Linked DNA regions of Homo sapiens: region 2 is linked to region 1. A link means that fine-mapping ties the variant in region 1 to the expression of a gene that starts in the linked region. Tissue or cell type: iPS cells. Region 1 holds a variant in brackets; the other region holds the start of a gene. All regions are shown on one strand. Distances are from middle to middle.

Region 1 (5,000 bases):
TCCTCTCTTACTTCCTTGAGCAGTGGTTTGTAGTTCTCCTTGAAGAGGTCCTTCACATCCCTTATAAACTGTATTCCTAGGTATTTTATTCTCTTTGTAGCAATTGTGAATGGGGGTTCATTCATGATTTGGCTCTCTGCTTGTCCATTGCTGGCGTATAGGAATGCTTGTGATTTCTGCACATTGATTTTGTATCCTGAGACTTTGCTAAAGTTTCTTATCAACGTAAGGGGTTTTGGGGCTGAGACGATGGCATTTTCTAAATATAGAATCATGCCATCTGCAAGAGACAATTTGACTTCCTCTCTTTCTATCTGAATACCCTGTATTTCTTTCTCTTGCCTGATTGCCCTGGCCAGAACTTCCAATATTATGTTGAATAGAAGTGATGGGAGAGGGCATCCTTGTCTTGTGCCAGTTTTCAAAGGGAATGTTTCCAGCTTTTGCCCACTGATATTGGCTATGGGTTTGTCATAAATAGCTCTTATTATTGAGATATGTTTGATGAATACCTAGTTTATTGAGAGTTTTTAAATGAAGGGATGCTGAATTTTATCGAAGGTCTTTTCTGCATCTACTGAAATAATCATGTGGTTTTCGTCACTGGTTCTGTTTATATGACGGATTATGTTTACTGATTTGCATATGTTGAATCAGCCTTGCATCCCAGGGATGAAGCCAACTTGATCATGGTGGATAAGCTTTTTGATGTGCTGCTGGATTTGGTTTGCCAGCATTTTATTGAGAATTTTTCGCACCGATGTTCATCAGGGATATTGGCCTGAAATTTTCTTTTTTTGTGTCTCTGCCAGGTTTTGGTATCAGGATGATGCCGGCCTCATAAAATGAGCTAGGGAGGAGTTCCTCCTTTTCAATTGTTATGAAATAGTTTCAGAAGGAATGGTATCAGCTCCTCTTTGTACCTCTGGTAGAATTTGGCTGTGAATCCATCTGGTCCTGGGCTTTTTGTGGTTGGTAGGCTATTAATTACTGCCTCAATTTCAGAATTTGTTATTGGTCTATTCAGACATTCCACTTCTTCCTGATTTAGTCTTGGGAAGGTGTATGTGTCCAGGAATTTATCCGTTTCTTCTAGATTTTCTAGTTTATTTGTGTAGAGGTCTTTATAGTATTCTCTGATAGTAATTTGTATATTTCTGTGGGGTCAATGGTGATATCCCCTTTATCATTTTTTATTGTGTCTATTTGATTCTTCTCTCTTTTCTTCTTTAGTTTAGCTAGAGGTATTTTTTGTTAATTTTTTCAAAAAATCCAGCTCCTGGATTCACTGATTTTTTGAAGGGTTTTTTTGTGTTTCTATCTCCTTCAGTTCTGCTCTGATCTTAGTTATTTCTTGTTTTCTGCTAGCTTTTGGATTTGTTTGCTCTTGCTTCTCTATTTCCTTGTTGTTGTTTTTGTTTGTTTGTTTTGAGACAGAGTTTCACTCTTCTTGCCCAGGCTGGAGTGCAATGGCGCAATCTCAGCTCACCACAACCTCCACCTCCCGGGTTCAAGTGATTCTCCTACCTCGGCCTCCCAAGTAGCTGGGATTACAGGCATGTGCCACCACACCCAGCCAATTTTGTATTTTTAGTAGAGATGGGGTTTCTCCATGTTGGTCAGGCTCATCTCAAACTCCTGACCTCAGGTGATCTACCCGCCTCAGCCTCCCAAAGTGCTGGGATTACAGGCATGAGTCACCACGCCCAGCCGCTTCTCTAGTTCTTTTAATTGTGATGTCAGGATGTTGATCTGAGATCTTTCCAGCTTTTCGATGTGGGCATTTAGTGCTATAAACTTCCCTCTTAACACTGCTTTAGCTGTGTCCCAGAGATTCTGGTACATTGTCTCTCTGTTCTCATTGGTTTCAAAGAACTTCTTGATTTCTGCCTTAATTTCTTTATTTACCCAGGAGTTATTCAGGAACAGGTTGTTTAACTTTCCTGTAGTTGCCTTTTTTATTTGTTTTAAATTGAGACAAGGTCTCAGTCTGTCACCCAGGCAGGAGTGCAGTGGCGTGATCAGGGTTCACTGCAGCCTCGACCTCCCAGGCTCAAGTGATCCTCCCACCGCAGCCTTCTGGATAACTGGGACCACAGGCTGCCACCATGGCCAGCTAAGTTTTTTAAATTTTTTATAGAAACGGGGTCTCGCTTGGTTGCCTAGGCTGATTTGAAACTCTTGGGCTCAAGCAATCCTCCCATCTACAGTAATTTTAGGCCTCCCAAAGTGTTCAGACTGCAGATGTGAGACACAGCGCCCAGCCTCTTTAAATGTCACTTCATTTTCAACCTTTCTTTTTCATATTATTTTATGTATACTTCTTATATTCAGCATAAACCTGGGTTTTTTTTTT[TTTTA/A]CTTAACCCAATCTCAGAGGATCTACAGCAAGCTTGTCCAGTCCACAGCCCACGGGCAGCATGCAGCCCAGGACGGCTCTGAATGCAGCCGAACACAAATTTGTAGACTTTCTTTTATGAGATCTTTTTTGCAATTTTTTTTGTTTTAGCTCATCAGCTATTGTTAGTGTTGGTGTATTTTATGTGTGGCCCAAGACAACTCTTCTTCTTCCAGTGAGGCTCAGGGAAGCCAAAAGATTGGACACCCCTGATCTAGAGGAAGGAATAATTTAGTTTATTATTTAATGAAACAACTCACATATTTGACTTTATTCTTTCACTCTCATGTTTATCATTCAGATACTTTTCCATGAATGTATATTTTTTGCCCACACTGCTTGTAATTTTTCCCACCCCAAATGGAATATAAGCATCTTCCATTATCTTTTTTTTTTTTTTTTGAGACGGAGTCTCTCTGTCGCCCAGGCTGGAGTGCAGTGGTGCGATCTTGGCTCACTGCAAGCTCCGCCTCCTGGGTTCAGTCTCCTGAGTAAGTGGGACTACAGGCATCCGTCACCACGCCCGGCTAATTTTTTTGTATTTTTAATAGAGATGGGGTTTCACCGTGTTAGCCAGGATGGTCTCTATCTCCTGACCTCGTGATCCGCCTGCCTCGGCCCCTCAAAGTGCTGGGATTACTGATGTGAGCCACTGTGCCCGGCCCATCGTTCATTATCTACACAGCTTTTCCTGCTTAAGTAGCATCCAATTATATGACTGTACATTTTAAATTTGAACAATCCTCTACTAGTTGTCCTACATTTTTCTAATGTAAATACAACCATAGGCCGTCCAGTCATACAAGTCACATACTTGGAAGTCATCTTTCACACTTCCTTGTCCTTCATCTCCATAACCAACTTATCACCAAATCCTGTTAATTTTACTTCCTACATCACACTCATCTTCCATCTCTCCTGCTATCATTCTACTTCAAAGTACCATGAATCTGAAATGGTCTCCTGTTCTGCCCACATCAACTTTGCTCCCATACCCATCCATCTTCTTCAGTACTGTTAGAACAAAGACTACAAAGTGGATAATGTCACTAAAAACCATTCAATGGTTTCCTATTACATTTAGGATAAAATCCAAAATACAAACCTCAAGGCCCTGATCTGTGGATCAGGTACACTTCATGCCACTGTCTTCTTAACTCTCTGCATTTCAGCTACACTAGCCTTTTCCCATTCTTCTACCAGATACTTATTCCTTCTGCCTATGTTTCACATACCCCTATTCTCCATTTACCTAGTTAACTTGTATTCATCTTTGATATTTCTGCTTAAATATTACTTCCTATGAGAAACATTCCCTTACCCTCAGGCTAGGTTAACCAAACCTGCATTCCAATACACTCCTGTAGTACTTTTCTTTTGTACCCACTAAACAAATAATTACACCACCAAAAATATAAATACAAACTGTGGTAGGTGCTGTCTCCACCACTAGACTGCAGACTTTGTGAAAGCAAAAACTGTCTCTAATATTGTTTTACTTACCTCTTTATTTCTTGATTTACTATAATGTCTGGCACTATGATACTGTAAAATAATAAATTTGGTCTTTGACCTCATTTCCTGGCATACAACTCCCTAAAGTCCTTGGAATTTCTGATGTCTTTTTTTCTTTTTTTTTAGAAAGTCTTGCTCTGTCACCCAGGCTGGAGTGCAGTGGTGCAATCTCGGCTCACAGCAACCTCCACCTCCTGGGTTCAAACGATTCTCCTGTCTCAGCCTCCCAAGTAGCTGGGACTACAGGCACATGCCACCATACCCAGCTAATTTTTGTATTTTCAGTAGAGACAGGGTTCCACCATGTTGGCCAGGCTGATCTTGAACTCCTGACCTCAAGTGATCTGCCTGCCTCAGACTTCCAAAGTGCTGGGATTACGGGGACATGACCCAGGCCCAAAGTGATGTCTTTTTGTATGTTGATGATTAACTGATGGCTGGCAGCTGCTAGGTGGCTTTAGGATAAGAGCAAGGCAGAATTAGAGGATTGTGACTTTCAGCCCCACCCAACCCCCCAACCACCAGGGAGAGAAGAGAAGCTAAAGGTTAACCAATGGTCACTGGTTTAGTCAATCGCCTATGTAATGAAGCCTCCATAAAAACTGACTGCACTGGGAGAGCTTCTGGATACTAAATATGTGGAGGTTCCTGGAGGGTGATGTGCCTGTGGAGGTCCTAGAGAATCCCTGTGCCCACTCCCCTACATCTCTTCCCATGCATCTCTTCATCTGAATCCTTTGTAATATCCTATATAATAAACTGCTAAATGTAGGTAAGAACTTCCCAGAATTCTGTGAACCGCTCCGGCAAATTAATCAAATTCAAGGAGGGCGGCATGGGAACCCTCACTTGAAGTCTGTTGGTCAGAAGTTTCAGAAGCCTGGACTTGCAACTGGTGTCTGAAGTGGGTGGGGGGCACTCTTGAGGCATGAGCCCTCAAACTATGGGACGTGGCACTGTCTCCAGGTAGACAGGTCGGAATTGAATTAGAGGGCATCCAGCCAGTGGTCGCTGCAGAACTGCTTGCTTGCTTGCTTTGGTCACAGAAGTCTTCTGTGCTGACTACTGTTGTGGTGTGACAGCAAAG
Region 2 (6,803 bases), 39 kb after region 1:
TTTTTTTTGGAGATGGAGTCTCACTGTGTCACCCAGGCTGGAGTGCAGTGACCTGATCTCGACTCACTGCAACCTCCACCTCCCAGGTTCAAGAGATTCTCCTGCCTCAGCCTCCTGAGTAGCTAGGAGTACGAGTGTGTGCCACCATGCCCAGCTAATTTTTGTATTTTTAGTAGAGATGGGGTCTCATTATGTTGGCTGGTCTCAAACTCCTGACCTCAGGTGATCAACCCACCTCGGCCTCCCTAAGTGCTGGGATTACAGGCATGAGCCACTGCACCAGGCCGTAAATTATATCTTTACAAAATTAAGTTAAAAAATTCTTGAAAATTTTAGTCTCAAGTAGTTTCAGAGTCAGAAGACTGCCTCAAGAGCCAGCAAGTGACTTCTAACCTTCAATTTTTGCCAGCTCCCTAGAGCTGCTTTGTTTCAATGTTAACTCTGCAGTATCAGTTTAGATTGAAACTGTAACCCTGGGTTCATACTAACCCTTCACATGTACCTCTACTTGTCTCCTGTCAGAATGTGAAATTCAACAACAACTAAAACTTCAGAATTAAGGTATTCCAGACACAAAAATAAAATTTTAGAGATTCAGCTATTTGGTTTCTCAGATACATACCAGGTCTCTCTAGACTCTGAATGTATTAGACAACCTATGTGTTACCATCACTTGTTTTTTGTTTTTTTTTCTGAGACAGAGTCTCACCCTGTTGCCAAAGCTGGAATGCAATGGTGCAACCTCGGCTCACTGCAACCTCTACCTCATGGGTTCAAACGATTCTCCTGCCTCAGCCTCCCGAGTAGCTGGGATTATAGGCGCCCGCCACCATGCCCAGCTAATTTTTTTGTATTTTCAGTACAGACGGAGTTTCACCATGTTGGCCAGGCTGTTCTCTAACTCCTGACTCGTGATCCACCCGCCTCGGCCTCCCAAAGTGCTGGGATTACAGGCATGAGCCACCGCACCAAGCCAACATGACTTTTTAAATCACTGACTTTAGGATATCCTTTGTCATCTGGTTGTAGAAAATCAACATGCTGCTGACCGGATACAGTGGCTCACACCTGTAATCCCCGCGCTTTGGGAGGCTGAGACGGAGAGATCACTTGAGGTCAGGAGTTCAAGACCAGCCTGGCCAACATGGTGAAACCCCATCTCTACTAAAAATACAAAAATTAGCCGGGCGTGGTGGTGGGCGCTTGTAATCCCAGCTACTTGGGAGGCTGAGACAGGACAATCACTTGAACCCGGGAGGCGGAAGTTGCAGTGAGCAGAGATCAAGCTGTTGCCCTCCAGCCTGCACAAGAGTGAAACTCTGTCTCAAAAGAAAAAAAAAGAAAATCAACATGCTATAAACATGATCATTTTAGAGAAAAAATAATTTAGTATATTTGGAGAATCTGTGATGTAGGGTCCATTTCCGGCTCTACTAATAATAGAGTAGGAATTGCTAAAGCAATAAGAAGGCTACCAAAGAATAATTGGAGAATGAATATATTTCCCTAAAAGAGAAAGTTCAACGCAGCCTGATGGCCTATTTACCTTAATTTTGAAAATATTACCCACGCCCAAAAAAAGTCACAAGGGTTTCACCATAATAGGTAAGAAAAATACATGTAAAGCACTGTGACCACCTTACCAGTTGACCCTTTCTGAGCGTCTACCAAATTCTTTAAATCAGTGACAGAGTACAATCTAACCAAGAAAAGAAAAAGGAACTAAAAATTCGCAAAGACATGCTTAATATCGCAAATGCCAAGGTGATCTACTTCAATCAGATGTTTGGCAACTAGAGAAGCACAGAACCCCGTTCTCAAACTGAGCTCCATAGGAAGCTGGCTAATAACACAAAGTAAATGGCCATGCATGCCAGGATGAAGGAGGCAGAAAGGCAGGCCTGTGTATAGAGCACTGGGTTTATGACAAGCTAGAATAAAAGCAAAATATTGTTAAATTTCAATTTTTCTATGATTTTTGAAGGATTCACATAATGGCCTACCAAAAAAAAAAAAAAAGGCTGATTTAGAAAGTAATATAGCCCAGGCGCAGTGACTCACTCCTGTAATCCCAGCACCTTTTTTTTTTTTTTTTTTTTTTTTTGAGACGGAGTTTTGCTCTTGTTGCCCAGGCTGGAGTGTAATGGCACTATCTCAGCTCACCACAACCTCGCCTCCCGGGTTCAAGCTAGTCTCCTGCCTCAGCCTTCCGAGTAGCTGGGATTACAGGCATGCGCCACCACGCCTGGCTAATTTTGTATTTTTAGTAGAGATGGGGTTTCACCATGTTGGTTAGGCTGATCTCGAACTCCCGACCTCAGGTGATCTGCCCGCCTCGGCCTCCCAAAGTGCTGGGATTACAGGCGTCAACCACCGCGCCCGGCTGATCCCAGCACTTTTGAGAGGCGGAAGCAGGTAGATCACTTGAGGTCAGGAGGTCGAGACCAGCCTGGCCAACATGGTGAAACCCCATGTCTACTAAAAATACAAAAATTAGCCGGGCGCGATGGCGGGCACCTGTAATCCCAGCTACTCTGGAGGCTGAGGCAGGAGAATCGCTTGAACCTGGGAGGAGGAGGTTGCAGTGAGCTGAAAAGATCGCGCCACTGCACTCCAGGCTGGGTGTCAGAGTGAGACCCTGTCCCCCCTCCAAAAAAAAATTGTGAGCCCAGGTGTAAATGAAGCCCCCCTCCCCAGCACCCTCCTCTACATACCAAGCTTTTCTCCTAGAAAAGATGCACTGGGAAAAAGCTATCTTGAGTAAAGATCAAAACTGATATAAGCCATCCCTCATATACCAATAATATGCCATCAATAAGCGTGAGACATGTGGATGGCTAGGAGAGAGTCTGGTTTCTTCCTGATGCTGCCCACCCAAAACAGAGACTGCAGTTAGGCTCTGACCACACGAGCGCCTGGCATCTCTAGGCAACCTTTTCCATACCAAGCTTAGTTATTCCGGGCAAAATGCAAAAAAAAAACATAAGTAGGAACCTATCATGAAGTGTCCTGGATATTCTTAAATTAAATTTAACCAGATTCTCAAAACATTTCATAACTAACGTCTGCTTTCTTCATTTAATTCTCCAAACATTATAATTTACATTGGTAGAAGAAAGTCCCACTTTACCTGCGGTGAAAAAGGTCGAAATGTCTATCTAGCATGAGATGAAAAACACTACCAGAGAGCAGGGTAGGATTTCACCTCGGCTATTCTCGCTCTAAGTCCAAAACTCCCACATCCTCTCCGCATCCCTCCACCCCGACAGAGTGGCCACAGGGCGTAGAGCGGAGGCTGATACCGCTCAGAGCAGACCGAAGGGAAAAGACGTCTCCCACCGCGCTCATGCCCAACCGGGCTCTCTGGAAAAGGGTCCCGGGGAGCGCGAGGAAAGAAACGAAGGCCGGAAGGAGGCAGAGCGGTCTAAGCAAATAAAAACCCCGGACTTCCACGGCGGCCGGAGCTGGAGGCCTGTGACAGCGGCTCCTCCTCTCAGAGCTTTCCCGGCTTCAGGAGGAGCTGGGGGGCGCCAGCTTCCCGGTGCCTGCGACGCACAGCCCGGCTGGAGCGAGAGCGCAGGGCAGCGGCCCCTCGGGACGAGCTCGCTCGCCTCCCCCGGAAAGGGAGGCTGTGGCCGAGACGGACGGCGGCCTCCAGCTCGGGCGGGGGAGGGCGGCTCGAGGCCTCCGGACCGGGCGCTGAGGTGGCGCACCGGCGCGGGAATGGCCCCAGCCAGCCCCGCCAGGCGATCGCTGAGTCCGTCACTCGTCTGCCCGCGTCCCCGCTTACCTGCTACCCTCGTTCCTGGCAGCTGCCCCGCCGCCGGCCCCGTCGCGGCAGCAGCCTGGACCGCGGACCCCGCCTTCGTCAGCTCCAAGGGAAGCCCCGCCAGCGACGAGGCGTCCGGCCTGTTCGCCGCGGCCACAGCCGCCGAGCTTCCTCTGAAGCGGCTGCCGCGACGCCGGCGCTGGCCTATCGCGTCACCTCCTCCGCGCCCTTCCGCCTGCGAGGCTGGGCCTGGCACCGCCCGCTTCCGGCGCTCCCGCCCCGCCTCCCGACCCGGGGCCGCCCCGCCCCCGCCCGTCACCGCGTCCTTAGCCCCGGCCTCCCTCAGAACGCGCTGGGATGGGAACCGCGTTCAGGAGCTGCTAAGCGCGTTTGAGACTTCAGCCCCTTCTCCAGCTTTTAACCTAAAAGGGCTAAATCAGACCGCAGCTAGTGTACACCCCTACCCTCCGCTGATCCCGTCACCCCTGCGCCGAAAGCAAAAGACCCATTCCAGCTCTGGACGTTGTGAGGCCTGGCCCAGGCGTCCGCTCTCTGGTTTTCCTATTGATCTTACCCCTGGTATTGTGATTGGCCTCTTTATCTATGTCTTACCCGCCCCAACTGTGAATGCTTTCCAAAATTATAAGCCGATGTCCTGACAGGCAAAAACATAATAATAGCAGATTTATGGCGGAAGATGAGTTCAGTTTTGAACATACTCGATCTGGAAGAATAAAGTGGAGGTGACTGCAATGGAAAACCAACAGTGCGTTGCTGAGAGCCTGTGTAGGCAGTAAGGATATGCATTGATGGTGGAGAAGATAAAAACAATACCGAAGCCAACTGCAGGATGGTTTGCTTTTAATTATCATCATGTGTCAGAAAATTCTAAACAATGTTAATGAAAAAGTACTCCTTTCCAAACAAAAGCTTTGTTTAGTCTTAGTTCTAAGCAATGGCTGCAATTACTGTTGATTTTTTTTTCTTTTTTCTTTTCTTTTTTTTTTTTTTCCAAACAGGGTCTTGCTGTCTCGCCCAAGCCGGAGTGCCGTGGCACACCCTAGGCTCGCTGTAACCTCTGCCTCCTGGGCTCAAGCGATCCTCCCACCTCATCTTCCAGGGTACCTGCGACCACAGGCTCCTGCACCACGCCCGGCTAATTTTTTATTACTATTACTATCATTATTTTTGTAGCGATGACATCTCCCTATGTTGCCCAGGCTGGTCTTGAACCCCTGAGCTCAAGTGATCCTCCCACCTGGGCCTCCCACAGTGCTCGAATTACAGGCGTGAACCACCACACCAGGCCCTCTCACTTCTTTTTAACAGTTTCTCTTTGTCAGTGATTTTTTTTTTTTTTTTAGAGGAGTGTCGCTCTGTCGCCCAGGCTGCAGTGCAGTGGCGCCATCTCGGCTCACTGCAAGCTCTGCCTCCCGGGTTCACGCCATTCTCCTGCCTCAGCCTCCTGAGTAGCTGGGACTACAGGCGTCCACCACCACGCTTGGCTAATTTTTTTTGTATTTCTTTAGTAGAGACCGGGTTTCACCAAGTTAGCCAGGATAATCTCGATCTCCTGACCTCGTGATCTGCCCGCCTCAGCCCCCCAAAGTGCTGGGATTACAGGCGTGAGCCACCGCACCCAGCCTGTTAGTGATTTTTAGCCATTTATTTTGTGCCCTATCTTTGTTTTCTTTGTATTTATCTGTCTTGGATATCATTGAGTTTCTCTGATTTGTGGGTAGATGTCTTGCATCAGTTTTGAGAAATTCTCAATCATTATCTCTTCAGATATGGTTTTTGCTGCATTCTCTATGCCTGTTCTCCGAGACACCAATTACATATGTAAGATTATTATTATTATTATTGAGACAGAGTTTCACTCTTTTTGCTCAAGCTGGAGTGCAGTGGCGCAATCTCGTCTCACTGCAACCTCTGCCTCTGCCTCCCGGGTTCAAGCGATAATCCTGCCTCAGCAGTATTATCTACTGAGGTAGATAATACTATTATAATAGTATTATTATCGAGTAGCCAGAATTACAAGCGCCCACCACCACGCCCGGCTAATTTTTGTATTTTTAGTAGAGATAGGGTTTCACCATGTTGGTCAGGCCGGTCTTCAACTCCTGACCTCCGGTGATCCACCTGCCTCAGCCTCCCAAAGTGCTGGGATTACAGGCATGAGCCACGGCACCCAGCCCATATGTAAGATTATTTGATCTTGTTCACCGTGTCTTTTACACTTTGTGATGTCAATTTTTTTTTCAATTATTCAGTTTGAAGGTTTTCTGTTTTTCAGGTTATTGAGTCTATCTTCTATAATCTCCAATCTGCTGTTAAATCTATACATTGAGTTCTTAATTTTAAATATTAGATTTTCAGGTTTTGTTTTTTTTTGTTGTTGTTGTTTGTTTTTTTTTTTTGAGGCCAAGCTTCGCCCTTGTTGCCCAGGCTGGAGTACAATGGCGCAATCTCGGCTCACTGCAACCTCTGCCTCCCAGGTTCAAGTGATTCTGCCTCAGCCTCCCAAGTAGCTGGTATTACAGGTGACCGCCACCACACCCAGCTAATTTTTGTATTTTTAGAAGAGATAGAGTTTCACCATGTTGGCCAGGCTGGTCTCAAACCCCTGACCTCGTGATCCACCCATCTCAGCCTTCCAAAGTGCTGGGATTACAGGCGTGAGCCACTGCATCTGGCCTGTTGTTACCATCCTTATATCCACGAATACTCATTATTTAGCTTCTACTTATAACTGAGAGCATGTAGCATTTGGATTTTTGTTCCTGCATTATTTCACTTAGGATAACAGCCTCAAGCTACATTCATATTTCAGCAAAAGACATGACTTCATACTTTTTATGGCTGTGAAGTATTCCATAGCGTGTTTGTACATTTTCTTTATCCAGTCCACCATCGATGGGCACCGAGGTTGACTCCATGTCATTGCTATTGTGAACAGTGCTGCAATGAACATACAAATGCATGTGTTTTTTTGGTAGGATAATTTATTTTCTTTTGGATGTATACCCAGTAA

Direction of the effects. Alleles are on the strand shown, and positions count from the first base shown. SD is a standard deviation of normalised expression in the study named.
For the expression in iPS cells of the gene that starts at base 3,944 in region 2, allele A in region 1 goes with a higher level than allele TTTTA (moderate effect, 0.44 SD a copy in HipSci).

Evidence for each region. PIP is the estimated chance that this variant, and not a neighbour inherited with it, causes the effect.
Region 2: it holds the start of SENP5, and the variant in region 1 is fine-mapped to the expression of SENP5 in iPS cells (HipSci, PIP 0.93).

Annotation. Positions count from the first base shown.
Region 1 is chr3:196,905,254-196,910,253 of GRCh38, reverse strand. The region is part of intron 6 of SENP5 (SUMO specific peptidase 5); the gene reads right to left. Among named protein-coding and RNA genes, the nearest start is that of NCBP2-AS1, 32 kb to the left of the region's middle. The variant TTTTA/A (reference allele first, on the strand shown) is at 2,357.
Region 2 is chr3:196,865,061-196,871,863 of GRCh38, reverse strand. It overlaps SENP5 (SUMO specific peptidase 5), which reads right to left and starts at 3,944. Exons shown (of 10, transcript NM_152699.5): 1 at 3,791-3,944. RefSeq lists an enhancer at 2,435-2,936 and a silencer at 3,588-4,167.